2 separate regions of the Homo sapiens genome follow, and region 2 is linked to region 1. The links come from fine-mapping of genetic effects on gene expression. A gene starts in region 1. The other region holds a variant in brackets. All regions are shown on one strand. Distances are from middle to middle.

The links. PIP is the estimated chance that this variant, and not a neighbour inherited with it, causes the effect.
Region 2: its variant is fine-mapped to the expression of SUGCT in whole blood (TOPMed, PIP above 0.99).

Annotation. Positions count from the first base shown.
Region 1 is chr7:40,129,836-40,145,564 of GRCh38, reverse strand. It overlaps SUGCT (succinyl-CoA:glutarate-CoA transferase), which reads right to left and starts at 10,560. Exons shown (of 14, transcript NM_001193313.2): 1 at 10,445-10,560. The coding sequence starts at 10,544. MPLKIP (M-phase specific PLK1 interacting protein) reads left to right here and starts at 10,943. Exons shown (of 2, transcript NM_138701.4): 1 at 10,943-11,336; 2 at 12,306-15,729. The coding sequence starts at 10,998. The coding sequence ends at 12,506. RefSeq lists silencers at 10,488-10,687, 11,148-11,217 and an enhancer at 10,868-10,937.
Region 2 is chr7:40,983,010-40,998,738 of GRCh38, reverse strand. It overlaps a transcript of SUGCT not described here. Among named protein-coding and RNA genes, the nearest start is that of LINC01450, 11 kb to the right of the region's middle. The variant T/G (reference allele first, on the strand shown) is at 7,138.

The DNA.
Region 1 (15,729 bases):
AAGGAAGTTCACTTTGGAAAAGAACGGTTATTATCTTTGAGAAAAAAAAAAAAAAGTGGGGAGGAGAATTTATGTAAAAACGAATGTTATATAGTAAATTCTTGTCCTAAAATAAATTAACTGGTTGTTTAAAGAAAGGGATGTTGCAACAAGTGAGAAAGCTGAGGCATGTCAAAGAATTGTCTGTGAAAGTCGTGAAAAAAAAAGTTATAAAAGGGAATTTATGCAAGAAATGTTGTATAATGTACAAGTAATTAGGCCTCTTGATTGTAAAACTATTGAAGAAACAGTTTATGTGCAAGGTGTGTAAGGAAAGTAAATATACTTTTGGTAAAAGGATTATAATGAGGCATAAGAATGTAGATTTTTACCTACATTAAAAGGTTAAAAAAATTTTTTGTTTTAAAGGTTTAAGCAAGTTTTGAAACATTAATTTTAAAGAAAATTCTGTTTGTAAACATATTGGCTAAAGTTAAAGGGGTATCATCCAGCTTTTCTGTAAACTGGACATTAAAATAAAAGCACAACAGGTTTTTCTTAAAGCACTAACCTGCTCTTTAACAAAAATTATACAAGGTTAAAAAGAGTCTATAAAAATCTTACCTTATGGTCAGACATTAAAAATTGGATAAATGTGTCTACAAGTTTTATTAAAATTAAGTTTATCACTAATAGCACACTAATATAAAGGTGAAATTTAGCTTTTCTGGTATAAAAATCATACAGGAAGCATTGTCAAATATAAAATGGTATTTGGCTTTCTTTGGTCTAAAAACTAATAAAAATAGGTGCTAAAGGAAATTTCTCAGTAAGAAGACACCAAGGACTATAAAGTCCACTGCTGATGTCCCCACATTTAAAACAAAAGATCAATTTCTTAGAAATTGTATACTTGGTTTATCTTCCACTTTCCTTTCCCTCAAAACTAAAAGTCTTTTAGCACAGGTACCACCCCTAGAATTTCCGGTAAACCAGCAACAGCCTGAAGATCATGGTCTCATCAAAGGGTGGAAAGAAGGAAAACTCCAGCCACCCTGGGAAGGACCCTACCTTGTGCTGCTAACCACCAAGACTGCTGTTCTTACAGTGGGAAAGGGAATAGACTCATCACACCTGAGTCAAGAAAGCGCCGCCCCCTCCAGAGTCATGGGCCATAGTCCCAGGGGAAAACCCTACCAAACTAAAGCAAAGAAAAATTTCACTCTCTTTCATCTATTCTATTACTCTTTCTTCTTTCCTCGCTCTATTGCTGACCATCTAGTTATTAACATAACCAAGTCAATTTCTCTTCAAACTATTGCATTTGATGCTTGCCTTGTTATACCCTGTGGGGACTTGCCAAGTCAAAGACAGCTCTCTACTTCAGAAAAGTACCTCTCTCCCTCCTGACTCTCCTGAGACTAGACATTAGTGAATTGAGACCACTTAATCCAGGGAGATTTTGGTAAAGACCCCAGTGTCAACCAGGAGTCTTGCCCCCCAGTGTAGAGCTTTTATGCCGTAGTTTGTCCAACATTCTGTGGACCACTAAAGAGCAAGGATGGACTGCCCCAACCAGTTTTTGTAATTTCCTAAAACCATACATTCATTTTACTAGAGGGACAGCCAACCCCCAACTGGGGGTCAGCTAAACCAGTGCATTCCAATACAGGTTATTATCTCGAACCCTCAAACTTCTTCCCCTTTTCTAAGCCAGTTCCCTTCTTTAAGCCAGTTTTATGGTATGGGGGCTGAGGTTTCAGGGACAGACCCTATTGGATTCTTTGAAATGTGTTTATTTGATCCCCCAGTGCCTGCACCTTCCTCTAAGCCTTCTTCCAAAACCTCTCACAACTGAACAATTGCCACTCCTCCATCTAACGACAAGACCAAGATAGCTATCATACAAGTTAAAGACTTAAAACAAACTTCGGCAATTAAGACAAGATACCAAGATGCAAATGCCTGGTTGGAATGGATCAAATATTCCGTCTGCACGTTAAACAAAAGCAATTGTTATGCTTGTGCGCACCGCAGGCCAGAGGCCCAGACTGTCCCCTTTCCACTAGGGTGGTCATCCAGTCAACCAGGCATGGGCTGCATGGTAGCTCTTTTCCAGGATTCTACAGCCTAGAGTAACAAGTTGTGCCACACTCTCTCTCTGCTATATCCCAAAGTCCAGCATGCTGCGGGTCAGCCCCCAAGGGCCATCCAGCCTCCATTTTCCAAAATCAATTTTACCTCATGTCTCCAACGACCAAGGGAAAAATTTGGCATTCCTTGGAGACTTAACAGGATGCAGTGAAGTGTGGCACTTCCAAGAGCTGACCTATCAGTCTGCCCTTATTCATCCCTAAGCGGATGTATGGTGGGATTATGGAGGACCTTTACTGGACACTCTGCCAAATAATTAGAGCAGTATTTATGCTCTAGTCCAATCGGCTATCCCTTTTACTCTGGCCTTTCATCAAGCAGAGGAAGGAAAAACCAGACGTCATAAAGCAAGGGAAGCCTCTTATGGGTCTTTCGACTCTCACATCTATTTAAATGCAATTGGAGTCCCACAGGGAATACCAGATCAATTTAAACCCCAAAATCAAATAGCTACAGAATTTGAGTCAATATTTTGGTGGGTGACAATTAATAAAAATGTAGATTGGATAAACTACATCTATTACAACCAACAGCAATTTATTAACTATACTAGAGATGCTGTTAAAGGAATAGCTGAGTAATTAGGGGCTACAAGCCACATGGCTTGGGAAAATAGGATAGCCTTAGACATGATATTAGCAGAAAGAGGAGGAGTTTGTATCATGATTAAAACACAAATGTTGTACCTTCATCCCAAACAACACTGTCCCTGATGGAAGTATAACAAAGGCATTGCAAGGTCTGAGTGCTGTGTCCAATGAGTTAGCCAACAACTCAGGGGTAAATGACTCCTTTACAGGATGGCTAGAAAAGTGGTTCAGTAAGTGGAAAAGAATAATAGCCTCAGTTCTTACTTCCCTCGCAGCCATAATGGGTGTACTTACTCTTGTCAGGTGCTGTGTCACACCATGCATCCATGGGTTGGTGCAGAGGCTCATAAAAACAGCACTTACTAAAACCTCCCTTAACTATTCTCTGCCTTATGTAAAGAAGCTTCTTCTTTTGGAAAATCTGTAGAACAACTAAGCCAAGACATGTTAAAGAAGTTTGAAGAAAAAGAGCCGTAAGGAAATGCAAGAGGACAGAATGTTAGATATGAGTTCTAAATTTCTCTTCAAAGAATCAGTTTGTCAGTAGGTTCAATTCTTTGCTTTCTAGTTTTAAACTTAACTTCCTGGTAAAGCAACCTTTTTCAATTATCTGCTCTACCCTGACTCATTCCAATTACCTGCTCCACCCTGACTCATTCCGATTACCTGCTTCACCTTGACTCATTCTGATTACCTGCTCCACCATGACTAATTCCAGTTACCTATTCCACCCTAAGTCATTCCGATTACCTGCTCATTCTCCACCCTGACTCATTCAGATTTCCTGCTCTGCCATAACCATTTTTCCTGCCAAACCACTCACCCCGTCACTCTCTTTAAATTAGCCAATTGGAATTAGTTTAGCCTGTGTGGTCTAAACCTAGCCAATAGGGGAATGACACAGCAGCGGGGCCACGTGCATCAGGGATAAGAACCCCTTCCCCTCCCTTGTCCAGGTGTGTGCTCACCATTGTTCCATCTGTAAGGGCGCATTCTTCTATAGAAGTACATTGCCTTGCTGAGAATTAAAAAGAAAATTTTATATTCCAGTGCTATTTCTTTTGTGGCACCAAACCTTTATTTATAACATGGGCTACTGGAGTCAGACCCTGTCTCAAAAAAAAAAAAAAAGAATTCCCTCTCCCTCAATCTTCATATATTACCTGTAAATGTGATAAGAAGCACACTTTTTTTTTTTTTTTTTGAGATGGAGTCTTGCACTGTCTGTCGCCCAGGCTAGAGTGCAATGGCACAATCTCAGCTCACTGCAGCCTCCCACTCCTGGGTTCAAGCAATTCTCCTGCCTCAGCCTCCCAAGTAGCTGGGATTACAGGTGCCCACCACCACGCCTGACTATTTTTTTGTATTTTTACTAGAGACGGGGTTTCACTATGTTGGCCAGGCTGGTCTCGAACTCCTAACCTTGTGATCCATCTGCCTCAGCCTCCCAAAGTGCTGGGAGTACAACCATGAGCCACCGCGCCTGGCCCAAGAAGCACACTCTCATGCATAATCTGTCAAAAATTTATAAATCAGATGGGCACAGTGGCTCATGCCTGTAATCCCAGCACTTTGGGAGGCCTTTGCAGTGAGCCTACATTGCACCATTGTACTCCAGCATGGGTAGTAGAGCAAGACTGTCTCAAAAAAAAAAAAGGAAAAGAAATCACTAGGATTTCTGTTCACCAATAATGTTCTACCCGAGGACGAAACCAAGAAGGCAGTCCCATTTATGATAGCTACAAAAAAATAAAACACCTAGGAATATATTTAACCAAGAAGGTGAAAGAAATCTACAAGGAAAACTACAAAACACTGATGAAAGAAACTATAGATGAAACAAAAAAATGGAAAAACACCCCATGCACGTAGGCTGAAAGAATTAATGTGGTTAAAATGACCATTGTGCCCAAAGCAATCTGCAGGTTCAATGCAATTTCTATCAACATCATTTTTTCACAGAATTAGAAAAAACAATTCTAAAGTTCATATGGAACTAAAAATGAGCCCGAATAGCCAAAAATATCCCAAGTAAAAAGAACAAAGCTGGTGTTATCACATTTTCTGACTTCAAAATATACTACAAGGCTATAGTAGCCAAAACAGCATAATACTCATAGTGTCTATAAAAACAGACACATAGGGCCAGGTGCGGTGCCTCATGCCTGTAATCCCAGCACTTTGGGAGGCCAAGACAGGCGGATCATGAGGTCAGGAGTTCAAGACCAGCTTTACCAACATGGTGAAACTCCGTCTCTACTAAAAATACAAAAATTAGCCAGGTGTGGTGGCGTGCGCCTGTAATCCTAGCTACTCAGGAGTCTGAGGCAGGACAATCGCTTGAACCCGGGGGGCGGAGGTTGCAATGAACTGAGATTGCACAACTGCACTCCAGCCTGGGCAACAGAGCAAGACTCTACCTCAATAAATAAATAAATAGACACATAGATCCATGGAACAGCATACATAACCCAGAAATAAACCCACATGCTTAAAGCCAACTGATTTTTGACAAAGTCGACAACATTTACTGGGGAAAGGATACCCTTTTCAGTAAAAGGTGCTGGGAAAATTGGATTGCCATATGCAGAAGAATGAAACTGGATCCCTGTATCTCACCATATAAAAAAATCAATTTGGCCAGACACGGTGGCTCACACCTATAATCCCAGCACTTTGGGAGGCCTAGGCGGGCGGATCAACTGAGGTCGAGAGTTTGAGGCCAGCCTGACCAACATGGAGAAACCCTGTCTCTACTAAACACACAAAAAATTCGCGGGGCATGGTGGCGCATGCCTGTAATCCCAGCTACTTGGGAGGATAAGGTAGGAGAATCGCTTGAACCCAGGAGGCGGAGGCTGCAGTGAGCCGAGATCGCGCCATTGCACTCCAGCCTGGACAACAAAAGCGAAACTCCATCTTAAAAAAAAAAGAAAGAAAAAAATAAATTCAAGATGGATTAAAGACTTGAATGTAAGGATGAAACTCTAAAAATACTGAAGAAAACCTAGGGGAAACTCTTCTAGACATTGATCTAGGCAAAGAATTCATGACTGAGACCTCAAAAGCACGGGCAACAAAAACAAAAATAGGCAAATGGAACTTCATTAAACTAAAAAGCTTCTGCATAGCAAAAGAAATGATCAACAGAGTGAACGGATAACCTGAGGAATGGAAGAAAATATCTGCAAACTACATATCCAACAGGGGACTAATATCCAGAATTTGTAAGCAACTCAAACAACTCAACAACAAAAAACAAATAATCCCATTAACAAATGGGCTAAGGACATGAGTAGGCATTTTTCAAAAGACAAACAAGCATATCAAAAATGTTCACCATCAGCCGGGCACAGTGGCTCACGCCTGTAATCCCAGCACTTTGGAAGGCTGAGGTGAGTGGATCAGCTGAGGTCCGGAGTTTGAGACAAGCCTGGCCAACATGGTGAAACCCCCGTCTCTGCTAAAAATACAAAAATTAGCCAGGCGTGGTGGCACACACCTGTAGTCCCAGCTACTGTGGAGGCTGATGCAGAACAATCCTTGAACCCAGGAGGTGGAGGTTGCAGTGAGCTGAGATCTTGCCATCGAACTCCAGCCTGGGTGACAGAACAAGACTTTGTCACAAAATTAAATAAATTAATTAATATTATGAATCCTGGATTTATTTATTTATTTATTTATTTATTTATTTATTTATTTATTTATTTATTTTTGAGCCAGAGTTTTGCTGTTGTCGCCCAGGCTGGAGTACAATGGGCAATCTCGGCTCACTCCTGACCTCAGGTGATCCACCCACTTCAGCCTCCCAAAGTGGTAGGATTACAGGCATAAGCCACCACGCCCAGCCTGATTCCTAAACTTAATCCAATAACAGATTTCTTCTCAAACATTGGCAGTATGCTGTAATCATTTTAAATTCATAACCAGAAAATGAGTTGAACAAAAAATTCAAGACTCTAGGGAAACAAAAATAGTTTGTATATTGCTAGAATTGTCTATTAAGAGTCATGTTTTCATGCCTTTTAATCTTCCCTGAAAATTTCTGTGTACTGCCATGAGTAAAATTTTTAAAAAATGTTCAACATCACCAATCATCAGAGAAATACAAATTAAAAACCACAATGAGATATCATCTTACACACAACAGAATGGCTATTAAAAAGACAAAAAAAATCACAGGATGTTGGTGAGGAAGCTGAGAAAAGGGAACTCTTCTTATACACTGTTGGTGGGAATGTAAATCAGTGCACCTTCTATGGAAAACAGTATGGAGATTTCTCACAGAACTAAAAATAGAACTACCGGAAGATGCAGCAATCCCACTACTGTGCATCTACCCAAAGGAAAAGAAATCATTACATCAAAAAGACACCTGCACTCATATGTTTATCACGGCACTATTCATAAAAGCAAAGATATGAAATCAACCTAAGTGCCCATCAATGGAGCACTAAATAAACAAAATATGGCATATATACAAAATGGAATACTATTCAGCCATAAAAAAGAATGAAATTATGTCTTTTGCAGCAACATGGATAGAACTGGGGGCCATTATCTTAAGTGAAATCACTCAGGCACAGAAAAACAAATATTGCCTGTTCTCCCTTATAAGTTGGTGGTAAATAATGCGTACATATGGAAGCAGAGTGTGGAGTGATGGGCAATGGAGACTTGGAGGGTTGGGGATGTAGAGGGAAGGGGATGGACTACAGGAGGTTGCTTGCTGGGTACAATGTGTCTTGTGCCAGTGATGGATGCACTGAAGGCCCTGACTTCACCCCAATACAATATATCAATGTAGCAAAACTGCACTTGTACCCCCATGAATATATGCCAAAACAAAATCATAACTGGCTGGGGCACAGGGGGCTCATGCCTGTAATCCCAGCACTTTGAGAGGCCCAGGTGGCTGGATTCTGTGAGCTGAGGAGTTCAAGACCAGTGTGGGCAACATGGCAAAACCCCATGTCTTCAAAAAATACAAAAATTAGCCAGGCATGGTGGCACACACTTCTGGTTTCAGCTACTTGGGAGGCTGAGGTGGAAGGATTGCTTGAGCCCAGAGAGGCAGAGGTTGCAGTGAACTGGGATTGCGCCACTGCACTCCAGCCTGGATGAAAGAGCAAGACATGTCTCAATACTTAAATAAATAAAAAATATATAGAGAGAGTATACTGCTATACGACAGAAAAACACAACTCAAACTTTTTTATTGGTCACTTTTATCTTGCTACAAAATGTACTACTAGAAGCTTAAAAAGAGCATGGCTTTTGAATTTTAATAAATTTTAGTGAACTTTAGTTAGATTGAAGTTATACAGATAAATGGGTTGATGGAATAAAGATCTATATACTCATTAGGCGTCCATCAGTTAAACTGTTTACTATTAAATTAATTTGTTGGTTGGGCATGGTGGCTCACCACACCATTTAATTGCAGAGTTTTGGGAGGCCAAGGCAGGAGAGAGGAATGCTTGAGGTGGGGAGTTCTGGGAAACACAGCAAGACCCTGTCTCTACAAAAAATAAAGAAATAAAAAAATTAGCCAGGCATGGTAGCATGAGCCTGTACTCCCAGCTACTTGGGAGACTGACGTGGGAAGATCACTTGAGCCCAGGAGGTCGAGGATGCAGTGATCTGTGATCTCACCACCGCACTCCAGCCTCGGTGACAGAGTGAGACCACCCCATGTCCATAATAATAATAATAAAGTTAATTTTGGTCCCCACCACTCTCACTTTTCTGCCCCCTCCCCTGAGTAGACTGGCTGATGATCTAAAAGGTGAAAATTACCTATGTGATGTATGTGAACCTTTTTTTTTTCCAGTGGGGTGGGGGGGCATGATAGGGTCTCGCTCTGTTACCCAGGCTGGAGTGCAGTGGCACAATAGCGGATCACTGCAGCTTCAACCTCCTAGGACTCAAGCCATCCCACCTCAGCCTCCCAAGCAACTGGGACTACAGGCGCACGCCACCAAGCCCGGCTAATTTTTTTTGTATTTTTGGTAGAAATGGGGCTTCACGATGTTGCCCAGGCTGGTCTTCAACTCCTGGGCTCAAGCAATCGTCCCACCTAGGTCATTTTATTCAATAAATATTCAAATGAGCAATTCCCAAGCATTAAGTTAAACACTAAAGACAATGTCCAGAAAGGTGAATTTTTGGCCAGGACAGAACTACTGTATTTAATAAAGTGGATAGGCTGGAGTCCTCCGACCTTAATTGTATCACTAAGCCTTAATGGCAACGTGCTACCTTGATTAAGTCTATCACTTGTATCTACAGAAGAAACGAAATGTAGTGAATTGAATTTCCACAGAATAAACAAACAAAAAAACTGTCTGTGTGTGTCTCCATTCATCAAGGAGGATAGAAGCTGAGAAGATACCACACTCGTCAGCTTGGGATGTCACAGAACATGTCAAAGAGACAGCGAGGAGTAGCAGCTACAAGAGGGTGAATGGAAATCACAGGTCCAGGCTACCCGTTAGGCTATGATTTAATGAGTCCTAAAGCTCTTTTAAGATTCTGTATCCTACGCCAGGCGCGGTGGCTCACGCATGAAATCCCAGCACTTCGGGAGGCAGAGGCAGGCGGATCACTTGAGCCCAGGAATTTGAGACCAGCCTGGCCAACATGGTGAAACCCGTCTTTACTAAAAATACAAAAAAATTAGCCGGGCATGTGGCACATGCCTGTAATCTCGGCTACTCTAGAAAGCTGAGGCAAGAGAATCGCTTGAACCCGCGAGGCAGAGGTTGTGGTGAACCAAGATCGCGCCACTGCACTCCAGCCTGGGCGACAGAGCGAGACTGTCTCAAAAAAAAAAAAAAAAATCCTGCATCCTGCAACTAATTTCAAGATTCATAGTGGGCCGCGCGCATAATCATAGAGATTACGTCTGTAATCTCAACACTTTGGGAGGCCGAGGCGGGAGGATAACTTGAGGTCAGGAATTCGAGACCAGCCTGGCCAATATGGCGAAACCCCGTCTCTACTAAAAATACAAAAATTAGTTGGGCGTGGTGGCGCATGCCTATAATCCCAGCTACTCGGAAGGCTGAAGCAGGAAAATCTCCTGAACACGGGAGGAGGAGGTTGCAGTGAGCCGAGATCGCGCCACTGCAGTCCAGCCTGGGCGAGACAGCGAGACTCCGTCTCAAAAAAAAGAGAAAAAAAGAAAAAAGGAAAAAAAAGATTCATAGTGGATTACCATTCCCAAATTCAGAGGGAGTAAAGAAAGTTCTATAACACTGTAGTAAAGCTAAATTTCATCCTCTAAATAAAATTCTGCAACAGGTAACTGTACAAGGGCATCTTTTATTGTACATGAAGTGTCAAGTTATTCAAAGCAGCGGGCTAAAGTCCTTTCTGAAATGTGGCTTGGTGTGCATTTTCGAAGTTACTTAAACTTGGCGGACGAAAGGACAGGAGTAAAGAGGCCCCAAACGCGAGCCGCGGGACGCGCAGGAGCGGGACCCCACGGCGCACGGAGCCCTCGGTCACAACAACGCACGGGACAGAGGCGACCCTGGGCGGCCAGAGCGGGGCAGGCCGGCCGCAGGCCCACGGAACGGGGTTGCAGGGAGGCGAGCAAAGCCACCGCTAAGGGGTCAGCAGAGACTTCAGACCCTAATTGCTCTCCTCAGGGCGCCCGAGGAGGCAAGCTGGGGCAGGGATCCCTTTAGCCACCCAGACCGAATCTCGGAGGGTACCTGACTGCGGGCGGCCAGTCCACAGCCCCCTCCCGCCGCCCCGGCCGGAGAAGAGGCAGGTTCTGCGCAGAGCTGCCACCCTCGCCAGCGTCGCCAGCATCGCGTGCGTCTCAGATGGCATCGGTCCCGGTGCAAGCGGCGAACTCCGTGCGGCGCCACCCGCCGCCACTGGGGGGCGCCCACGGACGCCGCAGACCCCGCCCCCGCCGGGCGGGGCTGAGCACTAGTCGCCTGCTGGGCCAGCTTCTAGTCTGTCGGTCAGACCAAGGGCACTCAGACTGGAAAGGTTGTTGCTGGGCTTGGGTGTCCGTCCTTTCCTGTCTCCTTTTCTTCCTCTTTTCACTTAAATCCACTGAGTCTCTCGCCAAGTCAGTGATTTAGGTAATCCCGCCGCCCCTGGCGGAACCTTTGTGACGCCGGAACTGATGTGCCGTAGGGTGGCTGCGGTCGGAGGACTGTTTTGGTAAAGGACTAGCAGTTCTCTGCGGAGGGCCGGTTGATACAGTTCCGGTGGGAGAACGCGGCTGCGAGGTTTTCGGCTTTGGCTCCTGATATGCAGCGACAGAATTTTCGGCCCCCAACTCCTCCTTACCCTGGTCCGGGTGGAGGAGGTTGGGGTAGCGGAAGCAGCTTCCGGGGAACCCCGGGCGGGGGCGGACCACGGCCGCCCTCCCCTCGAGACGGGTACGGGAGTCCGCACCACACGCCGCCGTACGGGCCCCGGTCTAGGCCGTACGGGAGCAGTCACTCTCCGCGACACGGCGGCAGCTTCCCGGGGGGCCGGTTCGGGTCTCCGTCCCCTGGCGGCTACCCTGGCTCCTACTCCAGGTCCCCCGCGGGGTCCCAGCAGCAATTCGGCTACTCCCCAGGGCAGCAGCAGACCCACCCCCAGGTAATAATAATAGCCAGCGTTTGCCGAGCTCTTACTTTATGGCAGGCACGGTACTAATATTCCCTTTACGTGGATTATTTTGTCTAATCCTCTCTGAGGTACTATTGTTAGCCCAATTTTGCAGATGAGCGAACTGAGGCTTAGAGAAGTTGAGTGACTTCCGGAAGATTATCCGAAAGAGTGGCAGAGCCGTACGTTCTGTTTTCGAGCCCTCGTGCTTTTAACCAATACACTGCCACCCGTACACAGATTTTCCTAATTCTCCATTTCCTCCTGTTTGCCAAAGGCCTTGCCAGTTTGTTTCAAGAAATAGTTCTTTTTCTTTTTTTTTTTTTTTTTTTTATCTTTCTTTCGAGCTACACTGGCTTCTGCTCCAACTTCCCTGAAAAGAAAATCGGTGGTAGTGGAAGTTTTCCATTCCTTTAGTGAGAGTAAATACAAAAGACAGAGAGAGTATCTCTAGCATGTCTGGGATTTCTGTGGTTTACAACTTGCAACTACGTGGTTTTCCAACTTGCTGTATTCTACACCAACCCCCTACCCCTTTTGAGCCTGGAGCTAAGGAGTAAAGAAAATGTTCATGAGCTAGAAAGGTTCTAGAAACTTTAAAACTATAGTATTGTTTTCTCCTGAAAAAAGTGAAAATTTCGAGGGAAAATTGAATATAATTACTTGATTTCATCACTGCTTGTATTTAATTACTGCAAAGTTACTACATTAGACACAAAAGTATTTGAGATGACAGTGGTCATGGAATTATAAATAAATGAGAATAACGAATTGCTTTAAGTACTTTTTTTAAAAAATAGGAACACTTGATTAAAGGAAGCATGGACTTTGTAATTGAACATTATTTAGGTTCAAGTCACAACTTTTAAGCAGCAATGTGATTCCCGCTAACCTTTAGCTAAAGGAAGAAGTACCAATTATCTTTACTAAGTGTTTTTTTAACTGATTTTTTTTCTAAAGGGTTCTCCAAGGACATCTACACCATTTGGATCAGGGCGTGTTAGAGAAAAAAGAATGTCTAATGAGTTGGAAAATTATTTCAAGCCTTCAATGCTTGAAGATCCTTGGGCTGGCCTAGAACCAGTATCTGTAGTGGATATAAGCCAACAATACAGCAATACTCAAACATTCACAGGCAAAAAAGGAAGATACTTTTGTTAACATTTCTGAAATTCAACTGGAAGCTTCATGTGTCAGGAACATCTTGGACAAAACTTTAAGTTGTGTTGATATAAATTTACCCAAAGATGATGACTTTGATTGGATAATTAGTAAGGTCTTTTTGTTATTTTTCATCGTATCAGGTATTGTTGATATTAGAGAAAAAAGTAGGATAACTTGCAACATTTAGCTCTGGAAGTACCTACCACATTTTAGAGATTTACCGTTTCCATATATTTAACATTCCTGGTTACATAATGGACATTTGTCTTTTAATGTTTTTTCAATGTTTTAAAATAAAACATTTTGTCTTCTAGCTATTGTGGTTTTGTGGTATGATAAAGAAGTAGACTTACTACAGTAATGCTTTGTAGTCACTTAGAGTTCATAGGTAAATGTTTTGCAAATTATTTTTGAAAATGAAATAGGTAAACCATCCTTTGAGCTGTAGACAGCTCTGTATTTGTTCGTAAATAATGAGGATGAGAATAACAGAGTTCTGTTCATACTCATTTTATCTAATGCTTCTGTTAAAATGCATTAAAACTTGAAGCCCCAGAAACCCATTTAAGCATAACTTTATACTCATTTAACTGGAAAAGGCAAGAATAGACCATGCATTGCTAAATCAAAGTGTTCTATCTGAATTTCTCTATACCTCTTAGCATTATGGAGTTAGTTTCTCTTGAGGCCAAAGAAGATAGCTACCAGCAGCCTCAAATCACTTCCATTGCAAAAAGAACATCTCTCATCTCCATCAATCCAAGAGAAGACAAATTTGCCATACTTAGATCATGTTTCTGTATTATTGAACCAATTAACTGTGGCCAAGGCCACAGTGAGACCTAATTAACTTGAATCATGGACACATCACCATAATGAGACAGGATTCTGTGACCTTGAACACCACTGGGCCTACCTGGAGTAGAGAAGTGGTTTTCCAAATTAAGGGATGCTATGGATATATACCTATAGTTCTGGAGAGAAAAATATGGAAGAATTGTTACCCCAACTATTTTTTAAAAATCAAGTGGTTTTTTGTTTGTTTTTTGAGATGGAGTCTGTTGCCCAAGCTGGAGTGCAGTGGTGCAATCTTGGCTCACTGCAACCTTCGGCTCCTGAGTAGCTGGGACTACAGGCACATGTCACCATGCCTGGCTAATTTTTGTATTTTTAGTAGAGACCATGTTTTGTTTTTTTTGTTTGTTTTGTTTTGTTTTTGAAATAGGGTCTCACTCTGTTGCCCACGCTGGAGTGCAGTGGCGCAATCTTGGCTCACTGCAACGTCCGCCTCCCAGGTTCATACGAGTCTCCCGCCTCGACCTCCTGAGTAGCTGGGAATACAGGCACGCGCCTGGCTCATTTTTGTATTTTGAATAGAGATGGGGTTTCACCGTGTTGGCCAGGCTGGTCTCGATTGAACTCCTGGTCTCAAGTGATCCCCTACCTTGGCTTCCCAAAGTGCTGGGATTTCAGGCATGAGCCACCGTGCCCAGCCCAGAACATGTATTTTTAGTATTTTTAGTATTTTTAGTTTCACCATGTTGACCAGGCTGGTCTCGAACTCATGATCTCAAATGATCCACCCATCTCAGCCTCCCACAGTGCTGAGTTTACAGGCGTGAGCCACCATGCCCGGCCAAAATCAGGTGTTTTAACATGTAACACAGACTCTAGGCATTTTGAAGTTACAAAATACGAAGATAGAGCTAGTAAAACTTTTGTTTCAACATTCCCAGAAAGAAACGTGTAAAAACAAAATGGTCACACCTCCTATTTGAACCATACCCACAGAAATTTGTTCATTAGGTATTTCACAGAGACTAGAAAATAAGAATGGAAGGCTTTTAGATTAATAAAAGCTCCATGAAAGCCAGGATTTTGGAAATGCTGTTTCTACAAGTTACTAGCTGGATGAGTTCACTTCTCTATGCCTCAATTTTCTCATGTGTAAGATGAGAAAATTAATAGTACCTGTGTCATAGAGGTGTTGTGTTGGAGGATTAAATGAATTTATGTATGAAACTCTTAAGCCAGAGCCTGGCACATAGTAAGCACTCAATAAGTGGTAGCTGTTACTTTCTCATTTACCCCCATTTCCTTAGTTTTTAGAATAGTGTCTGCAAGATAGTAGGTACTTAAGTGATAAATGGATGTAGAAATTCTGATTGTAACTACTATATTGTTCTACCTACACCCTGTATATAAAAGGGATAACTTAGTAATTTTTCCCCAGTATTTTAAAGAAAAAGTCCTTATTCCCAACATTATGTCTTTCCAGATATGTTGAGGTCATGATGTATAATGGAAATTAAAGCAAAGGGAATACTTTTTTAAATACTTTATTGAACTTTATAGGTAAGAAATGTTGTCTTTAGGAAATGACATTTGGAGATAATTTACTGAAGCATCTCTTAGATCATTGGGTTATTAGTAAAGACGAAAACAGAAGTTAGGATTTTGTGCCAGTGTATTTATATCATATTTGGAAGACATTCAAACTGTAACTCTTCTAATGGTCTACGTACATTTTATTTCACTGTAAGTGTAACATAAAACAAAGGTAAAATTTCTTGCTAACGCTTACCAACATCTACTTCTAGAGACCTGGCCTGAGTTTTTTAAGAAAAATTTTTGTCCTCAGGAAAGATGCATACACTGTAAGTAGTGTATTCAGTTATCAAAATTCTTGTGGCATTGGCCATTTGGTTTGTTACCGTTACTCTATTTTTATTTATCTGAGTAAAAGGAATTGATTATTCTTTAAAATGAAAGGGATTGTTTTTTAATGTTCTAGGATACACATTTTACCTCTATAAAAATGCTGAATAACTTTTTAGAAAAACTTACAATTAAGTATACATCTTAAAAATTCATATGCTTAAAGGATGGAAGTGTAGTCTATAGTAGAGTCTTCAAACAAGGGTCTACATACTCCTGGGAATATTAAACTTTCTAAGGGATATGCAGGCATAAATAGCTTTAAGGGAATGCAAATTCAGATCGCAGTGCCCATGTAAATCCTTTATTAAAATTGACCTACATAAAAACATATCCATATCAAGGGATCATGCCAGTTCTTTTTCCCTGCTGCCTTTTGGTAATCACTGGTCTCCCATTTTACAAAAGAAACCTATGGCAAGTTGTGTTTTGCAGAAATGACCCCAACAATATTTAAAGTCTCATACCCTTCTCGAACCTTGCCACTACCCTTATCAAGATG
Region 2 (15,729 bases), 850 kb before region 1:
TTGTAGAGCAACCTTTCCTAATTCTGGATGCTCAAAATATCCCTTGGGGGCTTTCTAGAAGACACCAATACTCTAGGCTTTACCTAGGCTGATTAAATCAGAACCTTTGAGATTGTACCTGGGCATCAGCTAAAAGCTCCCTAGTTGATGTAACAATAAGCCAGCACTCAGAAAAGATACTAATTTATGACTGCTGGGCACAAGAGCTACTAAATTTTCCCAAATAAGACAAACCTTTGTAGCTACAAAGTGCCATAGGACTACAACATTTTTCATGTCATCCTTGTTCCTCTGGCTTTATTCTGGAGCAGTTTTTTAATGTAGTAGTGATTATGTACTCAGTTCAACACACCTAGCTCCTTTTTTTTTTTCAGAGTCTTACTCTGTCGCCCAAGCTGGAGTGCAGTGGTGCAATCTCGGCTCACTGCAACCTCCACCTCCCAGGTTCAAGTGATCCTCCAGCCTCAGCCTCCTGAGTAGCTGGGACCACAGGCATGTGCCACCATGCCAGGCTAATTTATTTTTGTATTTTTAGTACAAACGGGGGTTTCATCATGTTGACCCGGTTGGTCTCAACCTCCTGGCCTCAGGTGTTCTGCCCACCTCAGTCTCTCAGAGTGCTGGGATTACAGGTGTGAGCCACTGCCCACACCTACTTTCAAAATCATTCCGGAATTAAGTCCTCATTGAAAATTCTTCTTAAAACTACAGAGAGGCCACTGAGAGATCCCAGGGATGGACTCCAGGACCACTGAGAGATTTCCGAGGAGTAGCTGGTGAGCATTGAGCAGGTTGCTTATGAATACACCAGGGCAAGCACCCTTAGAGGAAACAGTCTACACCATTGTCAAGACAGGAAATGAAGCAAGTCAAGAGATCAATACCAAGAAAACTGATTTTAGGGAGAAGTGAGGCTTATCACTCCCATTCAACACAGATTTCTTGAATACCTATTGTGTTCCAAGTATGGGGTCAGGAAGGGGCAATCCCACTGTCTAGGATCTGAGAGCTTAGGAAGGAGATGTCATCAAATAATTTCAAAATTACATGGGAAATTATGAGCAGAGTAAGAAGATATGTTTGAACCAGGGTGATGCGTTTGAGAAGGTTTCTAAGAGATGCAACCTTATCCACATCTTGGGAAGTGAATATTATCCAAGTGAAGCCTGGGAATGCCTGGGGAGTGGCCAAAGGAAGGGCAAAGTCATGATCCAGCAGGTGTGTGTGTGTGCAGGGTGGTGGTAAGTGAACCATGAGCAGTCTGGTGATCAAAGCTTAGAATGTTAGGCAGGAAAGAGCAAGGTCAGATTCTTATGGCTGACCTGTGGTGCTGGTTGCCATGTGGAGAATGGAGCTGACAGCGGGGCTGCTGTAGAGAACATGTTGAGGGCGGGCAGATGGTCCCAGCAAGGTGAGGGATGGCAGGACCTGCATCAGTGCAGTGGCAGTGGGTGTGCATATGAATGGGACAGGAAGTAAAATCAGTGGGACTTCGTGGCTAATGGATGTGTAGGATGAGGGAGACAGAGAGTAGATTCTGAATAAGAAACCATCAGATGCTCAGAGAATGTTTTCTTCAGGACCTGGAGTTTGAAATGGGTGGAGCAGGCAGTTTAAAACAAAAGGTCACAAACCACATGAGGGCTTGGGATGCCAGGTTTTCATGGGGTGCCAGCTGTGTGGCTTGGGGCAGGCTCAGCCTCAGGTTGTGGAGCCGCATCAGGCATCAGCAGAAAGTGAGCCAGAAAGATCATGCCTGTCTCCTTCGCTTCAGTTTGGGGTTTTACTCATCCCATTGACAGTTGGGATTAGTACTTTCCTAATTCAATTGTTTTTGTAAATCCCCATTCATCTGATGATTGATTACAGGTGGCTATAAATTGAGAAATGACAGAGAATAGTTTGGCTTTTCCTTGCTTCTCCCCTCAGTAAACCAGAGGCCTGGAAAATCTTGGGGTTGCCTTGGGAAACATAATGCACTTTAAATTGGGAGCTGAAGGAAGGTGGAACATTTAAATTAACCTCCAGTGGAAACCTCAACCTGCTTGTTATGGTCATTCTTGGCACAAAAGGCATCTCATTTTGGCTAACATCCAGAAACACAAAAATGGTAAAATTGCAGGACAGAAAGTTGGCATGGACGGTGTGGCAATTTCCCTGGTCCCCACCAATTCCCCTGCTTTGGAATTCTGTCTAGACTTGGCTTCAAGGAACATTCCTTCAGCCTTCAGTAGGCAGAGGTGTCCAGCTCTTGCAGTGTGTACATGATTTAAAAAGAACTAAGAACAGGCTCTCAACAAACCACTGCCTTCTAAAGGTCAAATCTCACTGCTCCAACTGTGACCGGGAAATGGAAATATATTCCAGATCGCTCAGCCCACAGGTGCAGAAGCTGAGGCTGCAAATTTCACGTGCAGACTGGCGGGGTCCCTTCTCTGAGCCTCCAGATGCACAGGGAATGTTTCATGTACAGGAAGACAGAGGCTACACAGTGACAGCTGGGCTTCAGAGAAAAAAAGCATGGACATGTAGTTAACTCTACCACAAATCCCCAAAATTCAAGCCACCAACATAGGAGGGAGAAACAGAGCAGCCAGGGAGATTTGGTCCATGCATTCATTCCAAAAATGTTGAGCACTGATTATATGTCAGATATTTTTTTCCAAAGATATTTCTCCATCTGTGACAAAATTGCTCACACTGGAGAAACATGTTTCCTGCCAGTTAGACGTCACTTTGCAATTCAGGGGGCTAGAACACCAGCATGCCATTTGCCCCTCATGTATGATACCACCAGAAAAGTGATTTTATGACTTTGCTTTTATCCAACAAAGTTAGTCCCTTTTCATAAATGACCTGGAGAGAAATATACCCTGAGAAATGAATTTCACAAATGAAGCATTCTGCCTGAAGGAGATTGGAGACTGTTCAGCTTGAGGTGCAACTGCCAGCCCTTTCTGTGCCTGTAGGTGGATTGCCAGGGAGCTATTGCCATGAAGGGCTGTAAGGTTTTAAGTTCTCCACATATAGAAATGCTAGCCATTTTACGTGATGATTATAGTGATGATGATGATGATACGAAAATAGACTGAGAAAAAAATATTGAAGTAATTAAGAAGAATGAGAAAAAAAAAGCTGAAGAACCTAAAACTATTAAGTGAGGGAAGTATTCAAGGACTAAATTGGACACAATCCAGGGCATTATTCATTCTGAAATATTTCTTGAGCACCTATCATTTTCGGGCCATGCTAAGTGCAGAGGATATAATAGTAAACAAAGCAATCAATGTCATGGAACTTTCGTTATGGTGATGAAAGAGAGTAAACTATAATAATAATAATAATAATAATAATAACAGCTATTATAGGATACCAAGTGCTGAGAAGGGGAGGAGATAACGGGGATAAAATGTGTGTATGTGTCTAGGGAGTGGGTGCTAATTTGCTTAATGAGTGTTGGAGAAAGAGACACCAAGAAGATAACATTTAGACAGAATCCACTGGCTAAATGAAAGAGTCATTCTCTGGGCAAACGGTTGACTCTTTGACTTCCTTGTCATCTCTATTCCCAGGCCCTAGGGATTAACTGGTGTTCCCTTCCTTTTCAGCATCCTTCATTGCATTATCTGTCAGAATTGTATAGTATGTGAAGTTTAAGGGAACGTGATTTTTAGACTGCATGTTAGAACATTTGTGTCGCTATAAAGGAATACCTAAGACTGGGTAGTTTATAAAGACAAGAGGTTTAATTGGCTCACAGTTCCGCAGGCTGTACAGAAAGCATGGTGCCAGCATCTGCTTCTGGTGAGGGCCTCAAGGAGCTTACTATCATGGTGGAAGAAACCTGTATATTACATGTGAGAGCAACAGCAAAAGGGAGAGGGCAGGAAGTGCGTGCTCTTTTAAACAACCAGATCTGGCGTGAACTCAGAGGAAGCACTCACTTGTCACCAAAGGGATGGTGGTAAGCCATTCATAAGAGATCACTCCCATAATCACCTCCCAGTCACCTCCTACCAGGCCCCACCTCCAACCCTGGGAATCGCACTTCTCAACATGAGATTTGGAAGGAACAAATATCCAAATTTTAGCAGACCACATGGACTAACCCACAAGGAGAATTTGTCCTTCTGTACCTTCTCTGGCCAGGCCCTGCATTTCCTGGTTTGGATGCCAGGTTGGTTTCTGAGCTTTTCCTGTTTCTTTAAAATGTCAAGAAACTGATGCACAGCATGTGCTCCAATCTCTTTACACTTGGGGCATGGGACTTTTTTATTCAGGTCAAGGAGTTAGAAAACAGCAATATTAGGATGCTGACAGGCTTCCAAAATGGGGGGGTGACTCTTTGAGAGAAGTGGGATGTAAATATCTTCTTTGTTCTTTTCCATCCATACATTAGATTTTGTGGGTATTCTCAATCTAGTTTTAATGATATGGAAGAAACTGAACTCCATCCTTTTGCTCGGATGTGCTTTATTAGATTAGGGAGATCTCTTTGCCTTCAAACTGAATGGCCACTGCACACCTTCAAGGGGCCATGGGGTCATGCTCTGGTTGTCATGTCCTGATCTGCATTGCATCCTTGGGGACACAGGTGACCACACCATCTGAGACATCATAATGCACAGAGGGCATGATAGATTTCCTGAGTAGTTGTCACTTTTCTCTCTGCATTGCCCCTTCCTCAGATATACTTAAGGCCAACCTTATTGGGTTCTAGTGTCTCAGATATAATTTCACAGTCAGGCAATTGGGTAACTAAGCTGCCTTACAACTCTTGTCCCTACAATCCTTTACAGTTGAATAGTGTTTTATTTGCTTGTTTTTCAAAGTTCTTGCATATATTTTTTCACTTGTTCCTGATAATAGGATTACTAGAAAACTTGTGCTACTTGATAATCACCACTTTACAGGTTAAAAAGTTGAGTCTCAGGAAGGTTGGATAACTTGTCCAAGTAACTGAACAGGTCATTTTCCAGCTCTGAGCGGCATCCAGTTCTTCCAACTTCAAATCTATTGCTCTTCAATTACATCTCAAAGATGCACAACCCTGGGATTGGATTCTGGCCATGGGTAAAATGCTTGCCAATGGGAAACAAGTCACCTTCTTACCTACCTCCTATCAAGGAGTAATTTGCTCTCCCTAGACTCATGAAGGAAACTGCAGATGAAGCTGCTTCCTGTGCGGTGAGATGTGAACACCCAACAATGAAGGGAACCAGTGACACAGAAAGCCTTTCATTTTCCATCTTCCCTCTGAGAAGCTCTCCACCCAGGCTTTGGCCAGGATTCTACCAACACTTCCTGACTTTTGAGCTCAGGTCCATTTGTAAGCCTCTCGCATTCAGCTCTGCAGGGTAAGCAGACAGCATCAGGGCATCTCCTTTACCTCCCATAATTGAGCTCTCTTCCTCCATAGAGTGAGCAAACACAGTGCACAGAACACTGAACACATCTAGGATTGCCTTGGAAAAGCTTGCCATTTAGTGGGTAGTAGAAAGACTTCTCAGGAATAAAAATAAGGGTGATGAGGTCTGCCCTCATTTGTGATCTAGAGCATTTTAACCCAAGAGGTCCACAAACCAGAAGATCCATATGACCAGGAGGCAGGGGCTAGTTAGAAACAGAAACTCAGACCTCATGCAAGAACTCCTGAATCAGAATCTGCATTTTAGTAAGATCTCCAGGTGATTTATGCACATATCCAAGGTTGAGAAACCTATACCAGGGAACCAATTTCCCTTGAGCCTGCATACAAGGAGGTCTGTGCCCTAATTCCTCCTTCATTCTCTTACCTGTCCCCTCCCCACATAACTGTGTCTGTGTCCACAGTCCTCTCTCACAATGCTCAAGCCTCACAACACTCTTGCTCTTGAATATATGCCTTAAATTCTCACAACAGCTCATAGATATGTTTTCTTGTACCCACATTACAGGTACTGAAACTGAGGTCCAAAGAGAAAATAACTCACCTAGGGTAGAATTACTGCTAGGTGTGGCTGTGCCTGGAATTTGAAGCTAGGCTTGGCTCACTCCAAAGCCAAATCTCTTCCTATTATAACCAGAACTACTTCATACATACCTCCTATGGCCCATTTTTCCCAGAAAAACCCTTTTCAGAATATGGGGAAGCAGTTTTCACAGATCCTATAGACCCACAAGAGGGATACTTTTGTCAGAGGTATTTGAACCAGAGCAACTCCATCTTGAATAGGGACTCGGTAAAATAAGGCCGAGACCTACAATGGGCTGTGTTTTCAACAGGTTAAGGCATTCTTAGTCACAAAATGGGACAAGAAGTCAGCACAAAATACAGGTCGTAAAGACCTTGCTGATAAAACAGGTGTGGTAAAGAAGCCAAAACCCACCAAAATCAAGATGGCCATGAAAGTGACCTCTGGTTGTCCTGACTGCTCATTATATGCTAATTATAACACATTAACATGCTAAAAGACACTCCCGCCAGTGTCATGACAGTTTATAAATGCCATGGCAATATCTGGAAGTTAACCTATATGGTCTAAAAAGCGGAGGAACCCTCGGTTCTGGAAAATGCCCACCCCTTTTCCGGAAAACCCATGAATAAGCCATCCCTTGTTTAGCATATAATCAAGAAATAACCATAACATAGCCAACCAGTAGCCCTCGGGGCTGCTCTGCCTATGGAGTAGCCATTCTTTATTCCTTTACTTGCTTAATAAACTTGCTTTCACTTTACTCTGTGGACTGATCCTGAATTCTTTCTTGCAGCAAGAAAGAATTCCCTCTCTTGGGGTCTGGATTGGGACCTCTTTCTGGAAACACATTCTCTGGCAGTTCAGATGTTCCCCTCACCACTGTTCTTGCCACAAAATAGCTGAGAAAACTCAGCTTCCATCTTCTAACACCATGCAGAAGAGGGAAAGGCTCTTCTGATACGTGCTCGTCCTGGAGGTATTATCATTTATTGGCCCAAGTTGTTTCATGCCCATTCTTTCCCAATCACAGGGGCTGAAGGTGAAAATACTGAAACACTTAAACCAATATGGGGGCATTCCTGGAGCTGCAGGTGGGTCTTCTCACCAGACACATGGTCAAACGGGAGGAAGTAAATTCCCTCCGGCCTGCCTCACCCTAAACAAATCAAGATACAATAGA[T/G]GAAGTGAGAACGTAGAGGCATACTTCACTTTATTGTGCTTCATTTTATTGCATTTCACAGATACTGCATTTTTTACAAATTGAAGGCTTGTGGCAACTCTGTATCCAACAAGTCTATCGGTGTCATTTTTCCAACAGCCTGCACTCACTTCGTGTCTCTGTGTCACATTTTGGTAATTCTCAAAATATTTCCAATTTTTCAAATTATTATTATATCTTTTATGGTGATCTGTGATCAGTGATCTTTGATGTTACTATTGCAATTGTTTTGAGGTGCAAGGAACAGTGAAGATGGCAAATCTGATTAATAAATGTTGGAATTGCTCTGACTCCTCCACCAACCAGCATTCTCCATCTTTCTCCATCTCCTCAGGCCTCCCTATTCCTTTGAGACACCACAATACTGAAATTAGGCTAATTAATAACCCTGCAATGGCATCTAAGTGTTCAAGTGAAAGGAAGAGTTGCACATCTCTTTCTTTAAATCAAACGCTGGAAATGATTAAGCTTAGCGAGGAAGACACGTCAAAAGCTGAAATAGGCCAAAAGCTAGGCCTCTTGTGCCAAGTAGTTAGTCAAGTTGTGAATGCAAAAGGAAAGGAATGAGAAAGCAAAATGACTTATTGCTGATATGGAGAAAGTATGAGTGGCCTGGACAGAAGATCAAGCCAGCCACAACATTCCCTTAATTTAAGCCTAATCCAAAGCAAGGCCCTAACTCTCTTCACTTCTGTGAAAGCTGAGAAATGAGGAAGCTGTAGAAGAAAAATTTGAAGCTAGCACAGGTTGGATAATGAAGTTTGAGAAAAGAAGCTCTCTCAACATAAAAGTGAAAGGTGAAGGAGCAAGGGCTGATGGAGTAGCCACAACAAGTTATCTAGAAGATCTAGCTAAGAAAATTGATGAAGGTAGCTACACTAAACAAATTTGCTATGTGGATTAAACATCCTTCTGTTGGAAGAAGATGCCATCTAGGACTTTTATAGCTAGGGAGAAGTTAATGCCTAGCTTTAAAGCTTCAAATGACAAGTTGACTCTTGTTACTAGCTAATGCAGCTGGTGACTTTAAGTTGAAGCCAATGCTCATTTACCATTCGGAAAATACTAGAGTCCTTAAAACTTATGCTAAAGATACTCTGCCTGTACTCTATAAATGCAACAACAAAGCCTGGATGACAGCACATTTGTTTACAGCATAGTTTACTGAATATTTTAAGACCGCTGTTGAAACTGATTACTCAGGAAAAAAGAAAAAGATTCCTTTTATTAGGTTATTGCAGTTCTGCAAATACTTTTGCACCAAACTAATAAAATGTTACTGCTCATAACAATGCACCTGCTCAACCAAGAGCTCTGATGGAGATGTGTGAGGAGATTAATGTCGTTTTTGTGCCTGCTAACACAATGTGCATTCTACAGGTCATGAATCAAGAAGCCATTTCAACTTCCAAGTCTTGTTATTTAAGAAGATGATTTTGTAAGACTGCAGCTGCCATAGGGCTTGGTTCCACTGATGGATTTGGGCAAAGTACATTAAAAACCTTCTGGAAAGTATTCACCATTCTTGATGCCATTAAGAACATTTGTAATTCATGGGATAAAGTCAAAATATCAACATTAACAGGAGTTAGGAAGAAGTTGATTCCAACCCTCATGAATGACTTTGAGGGGTTCAAGACTTCAGCAGAGAAAGTAACCACGGATGTGGTAGAAATAGCAAGATAACTAGAATTGGAAATATAGCCTGAAGAAGTGACTAAATTTCTGCAATCTCATAATAAAACTTGAGCGAATGAGGAGTTGCTTCTTTGTTTTTTGTTTTGTTTTGTTTTTAAGACAGTCTTACTCTGTCACCCAGGCTGGAGTGCAGTGGCATAATCCTGGCTCATTGCAACCTCTGCCTCCCAGGTTCCAGCGATTCTTCTGCCTCAGCCTCCGGAGTAGCTGGGATTACAGGCCCACACCACCAGGGCCAGCTGATTTTTTTTTTTTTTTTAGTAGAGATGGGGGTTTCACCATATTGGCCAGGCTGGTCTCGAACTCCTGACCTCAGGTGATCAGCTCACATTGGCCTCCCAAAGTTCTGGGATTACAGGTGTGAGCCACCATGCCAGCCAAGGAGTTGTTTCTTATGGATGAGCAAAGAAAATGGTTTCTTGAGATGGAATCTACTGCTGGTCAAGATGCTGTGAACATTGTTGAAATGACAAAGACAAATTTAGAAAATTACATAAATTGAAATGACAAAAATGATTTAGAATAGTACATAAACTAAGTTGATAAAGCAGTGGTAGAATTTGGGAGGACTGACTCCAATTTTGAAAGCAGTCCTACTGTGAGTAAAATGCTATGAAACAGTATCACATGTTACAGAGAAATCTTTTGTGACAGGAAAAGTCAATAGATGCAGCAAAATTCATTGTCATCATATTTAGATCCTGCAAACAGGTTACAATGTGCTGAAGCCTCAAATGATCTTGAGTATTTTTTTTAGCAACAAAGTATGTTCAATTAGGGTCTGTACATTGTTTTTTATACATAATGCTATTGTACAATTAATATACTACAGTATAGTGTAAATATCATTTTTATTTGCACTGAAAAAAAAAATGCATGTGACTTGCTTTATTGTGATATTTGCTGTATTGTTGTGTCTGGAATCAAACCTGCCTATATACTGAGGAGAAAACAAACAAACAAAAAAAAACTACAAAAATTAAGAATGTGCTAGAAATATATTTATTTATTGGCAAAGCCATATATTAACTGGAAAAAATCAAGTCACAAAACAGGAATTTCAGCATTTTCTTATGTCTTTTTTTCCCAAGAATCTGTCTATCTATAATATCAAGTACATAAGGGTGCTAAAATAATAAGTTTATGGGAGTTCTTTAGTTTATCTTTAACGCTTTTCTCAATCTTTTGATTCTTTTCTCTACGATAATAAAAAATTACATGTAGAGCACATATTTAAAGCATATTTTTTTAAACACACACTTTTTTTCTATAGCAGTATTATTATCCCCAGTATCAGTATCCACATTTTAGGACCTATACAGCTGTAGAGCACTCTATAAAGTCAGTTTTTTTGAACACCTCCTTGTGGCATGATCTCAGTAGTTTATGCCAATCTATAAAAGATTCCTTCAAAGAGAAGTACACCTACCTTAAAAAAAAATGGACCCCAGAACCTGGTAGCATTAGAAGGAGAATCTGCTCCTGGAGAGGAGGGATAAGTCAAGGAGCCCAACTTCCTTTCCCTGGAGCTGCCTGTACCCTAAGGTCTTATCTCCACCCACCAATTCCTGTGGGTCTTCTTGGCCTTTAACACTTCTAAACACATTTAAATTAAACATCTTCATCTAGTTGCCTCTTTGCTTAGCTGAAAACATGTAGCAAAATTTTAATATTAAATTAAAATTAAAATTAAAGACTTTACCAATTACTGAAGAATTACAAAAGACGAATAAACCCTAACTACTTGACTCTGGAGAGCCTATTACATATGCCATGCTCTTTGGGGGAGAATTGATGGGATCTCATACATGTGAAACCTTCTAGAAATGAGAAGGCTTCATTCCACTCCCTGGATCCACTTCTCCATTCTCCAAGCCTCCCTTTCCCTTTGAGGGAGAGAGACACACACAGAGAGAAAGAGAACAAGTTTCACAGTGTATCGATCAACCACTACGTTTTAAGAATGATTTCACATAGACCCAGATCATCAACAAGGTATTTATTTTCATTGGCCTCTCTGTGCAGATGGATAATAAATAGAATGACAAATAATGGTTCCTGCTCTAAGAAGCTTACAGTTTCTGGTGGGAATATCAACAAATGCCTGGAATTCTGTTGAAACATCAAGAAAGGAATATGCAAATACTCTCTGTTTACTCCATTTATCATTTGGCTCATGGTTGGATGGTTTCTGCCTCCTTCATCATTGCTTCCTCAAATTATAACTAACCTTAAAACCCAGATGTTTTTCACAAAGCTGTCTCTGATCCCTTCCTCCAAAGTCATAGAATTCCTTTTCTTCTGAACCTCCAGCATATATAGTATTTTTCATGGGAGACATTTTATAATTTAACACAATGATTCTCCACCAGAAGAAAGGGTGGGAGTATATGTAACACAAACCTTATTAAGTTCTAAAAAATTACATAAATTACCAAGAGTCACACAGATAGTGGAAGGTACCACATTGTAATCCATATCTTCATTCCAAAAACCCTGCTTTAAACTACTGGTGTCTCCTGATCATTCTCAAACCACTTTCTACATCCTCCTCTCCTCCACCCCACCAGCCTGGATTGCAGTCCCCTCGTCATGTCCACATACCTTTGTCCATCTCTGATGAGTCCCTGGGACTGATGGCAGGGAGTGGCATCGCCCTCAGACCCTGAGGCAAAACAATATTGAGGACCACGTTTTTACCCTGTTGTGGTCCTTGTCCGTCCTACTGGGTTATGTACTCCTCTAGGGAAGAAACTGTAGCTTCTTCATCCAGCTCTACCTCCCCCAGACACCATCATTATGGGAACTAGAGCAATGTCTTGCCTTATCATTTTTGTATGAGTTTTTCAATAGATTTTTTTGAATAAAGGAAAAACATAGAATATACAGATTATGTAAGTGCAAATAAGGTGTAAGTGATAACATTTGTGGATAAACAGGATGATGTGGAGAGACTTTCTGGAGGAGGTGAGGTTTTTTTATTTCTTTTGGCTGGAGGATCCTGACTTAGCAGAGATGAAGGTGAAAGGTAGTTCAGTTAGGGAGAATTGCATAATGGCCTGATTTAAAACATTCCTCGTTGTTGATGAGAAATGACAGTGCTGATAGATTTCCTATGACCATAGAACAGATGAGCAAGACAGTTTAATTCTGGGAATTTCTGCTTTCCATCTCAGCGATTACTCCTTGGGCCATTATCTCTTCAGTGGATGAAGGTACTTGCTAAAAATAGGCTACTAATGTTTTCCTTAGAATTACAGCACACGTCAGAAGAGAGTAATGACCCAATCCCGCACTGTTTTCTTTTCATTTCAGTTGGCCTCAAACAAATAAACCCGATAAATATTATCGGAGTCACATATGCTCATTAAGGGTTATAGTCAGTGGCTCTGTTTGTTTTACTGTGTAATAGATGATGAAACCATGGTGATGAGTGGAGTAAGCTGGGATGGTTTTCGTATTTCCCCATCTCAACACTGAAGACTTGCTCATTGTTATTTCACTGGCTTGTACAAGAAATAGAACAGCTCACTAAAACTCTTATTCATTTTGACATGTCTTAAAGAAGTCCACATTCACATATTCTGATTTAGCTCAATGACACATGATACATGTTTGAAAGGGGTTCTTAAATAAATCATTGAACATTAAATAAGCATTTTCACTGGCAAGAGGAACAGTGTGAAAACTTTCAAATAAGAAATAGTATTCTTAATAACTTATTAACTCACCATAACTGAGGATTCTGTTGGTAATCATTTTATGGGCTAGAGGACAAAATTCGGCTCATGTTGTGTAAAATTTATGCCTCAAAAAGTCAAAGTATATAGTACTGGCCTACTGTGTTTTTAAAAACATTTCAGCCTAGTAAAAGAAAATAAACACTGTAATTATTCCTAATGAAATTTCCACACATTTTCATATCTAAGCCTCATGGCTTTCATTTTTTGTTTAAAGAGACTGAAAAACCATGGGTCTTCCCACTCTTGTATGAATTTTTACCAAAACCCTAATTTTACTATCCAGAAGGGCTGCTTTTCCCTATTTGCCCTAATCCTTCTGTCCACAGAGTGATCTTTCTAAGATACAGATCTGATTGTATCACTTTCTAGTGAAAACCTTCAACAGTTCCCTGTTAACATAATCCAAATACTTTTGGATGATATACAGCACTATTCATACTATGGTGGTCTATTTTTGGCCCTTTTAAAATTCCCTTTCTGTGTAATTCACAATTGTCCTGAACTTCATATGTCCCAAAACTTGCAGGCTTTTACCCTTCAGCCTTCAAACACACTTCTCCTTATCTTCCAGGTAAAACTGCTGTCATCAACACTGCACTCAAATTTAACTTCTTCTGAGATTTTTTTCCCCCACATTTACTCCCCAACACCTAGTGGTTCCCTTCTTCCTGATCATTTAGTGCATTTTCCAGGCACTCAAGTCGTGTCATTTCCATCACCAGCATTTTCATTATTTGTTTTGATGTCTATCTCCTGCACTGCGCTGAGGACTTGTCTTTTTTGTAATGAAAGCTCAACGCTGATACAATCCCAAGCCCCAACCAGGTGCTCCATAAATGTCCATTTACAATGCCATTGAATAAATGAATCACAAACTGCTCCTCACTAGAAAGGAACAAGCCCAGAACTCATGCTTTTTAAAGCCCTGATACAATTTGCAATTTCAACTTGCAATTGTATCAAGTTCCAGACTGAAGCCAGGGTTAGGGTTCTGCAAAAGCATCCAAGTAGGTTTTAGCTTCTAGTTAAAACATACACCCAAGAGAACATCAAGGGTTATTACTTGAATAGACAGCCTGTCCACGTAAAAATGGTGAACACATACACTTTGTTCTTTGAAAATGTTCCCTTGAGTCTCTGCTGAGATGTATTCATTTAGAAGAACAAAGGTTGATTAGCATATCACCAAACAGACAGCAGAAATTTTATGTTTGGCAGCCACTTCTGGAGGGATACAGGCCTGCATTTCGTTTCCTAACAGATTTCAGGGACCTAACTTAGTGGGAGAAGTACAATCTTACAGGAGAGGAAGGCTGCACGATACCAAAAAACAAACAAACAAACAAAAAACAGCATCACACTTGATAGTGATAATGTTTCCACCGACATTGTCCAAATCTGTTCTGTAATTACACACTCAATGCCATTGTAAAATGGTAGCCGTCGGAATATAGTTATAGCAACCTAGAACATCACAGATGGAAGGAGTCTTAAAGGAACTGTTGTTAATATCTTTCATTACTCAGATGTGGATGTAATAGCTAAGAAACAAGTCCTATCTGCCCGACTTATTAGAATATAGGAAAAAATTGAGGGGAAGATACTCCATAAACTGGCAGCATAATAGGGTAGACAAGCTATCAGTTCCAGGGGGCAGATCAGTCTGGCTTCATCACCTGTATGGCTATAGGAAAGTCACTTAACCTCTTTGAGGCTCATTTTTTTTTGCCTATAAAAAATATCCACTGTTATCTTTTTTAGAGGGTTGCAGTTAGGATTAAAAGTTCTAAGTTAGGAACACCTAGCACAATGCCTGGAAAAGTATGAGTCTTCAATAATTGATAGATATTATTATTATTGCAGTGGAAATACAGGGAATGTGAATCATGTTTGGAGTGGACTTTTGTCATCTGGGGCTATAAAACAACCAAATCTTCGTATTTGGGAGGAACCCTGATGTAAAGGAAGAAGGCCCACCTTTCATTACAGAGGCTGAAAGGGGAGAGTTCTGTCAGTGAGAGAGTGGTTACCTGGTGGAACCTATTCAATCTGAGCTTCCACTGGGGCTCTGAACCTGGAAGTAACGTGGCCCTACCCCTCGCCTACCTGCATTCTGCCAGAGGATCCAGCTACAGAGGCCCCCTTGGTTCCTACAGGCGATTCAACCCTGATGTTTCTGGGAGCTCTCCATCTATCCCCCAACCAATTCTTTTTTTGTTTAGGATAGACAAAATTGATTTCTGTGACTTCTGACTAGCAAGACACTCACTATAAATATAATTCAAATAGAGGCAAACCGATCATTTCCAATCTAATCCTTGTTTCTCCATTGCTAACATGCTTTGTGCTACATCGCTTTCTCAATTAAAACCATGGCTTAATTTTCTATGTTCATAGACAGAGCATAGATCTTTAAAAATGGGAAACTGTGGATAAACCGCACTGTTTACTTTAATTCACAAAAATGAAGCAATTATATACACAAACCTAGACTGAGAGGCTGCTCTGTCTCCTCTGAGTTTAAAGGGCCTGGGCTAAATGGCAGCAAAGGAGTGGGAGAACAGAAGCCTAGAATGTCCAGTCTCACTAAGTGAGCACCAGTTACAAAAGGAACAATCATCCAGTGCCGGCAGGACTTTGTGCTAAGCAGCCAGTGATTTTCCAATGTTTTTAAGTTGGAGGAAAATATATGACAGATGTGTTGGCTCTGGGAACAATAAAAACAGCTTCTTAAATCACCAAGAAGGGGAGAGAAAGAAAGTAATACAATACAGGATAAATCAGGAGGGAGCTGGCAGGACTGTCTGTTACGGTTGAGGGTAGCAAGGGAATGATGTGTTCAGTAGCAGTAAACAAGCATGGGGTGAGAAGGCCTCAGACCACAAGACCAACCATCGTAGAAAACTGCCCTGAACCCCATCCTGAAGGAACATGATCTACAACTTGAGGAACACAAGACGGATAAAACACTAACAAAAACTCAAATGGGGCAATAACGTTAAAACACAGTCGACTTGTGCATTACTAAAGCAAAGGGATGAAAATAATGAATCAGCAAGCTGTCCCAATTTCCACTAAGACAGTAGTTCTTGACATATAATGTACCTAAGAA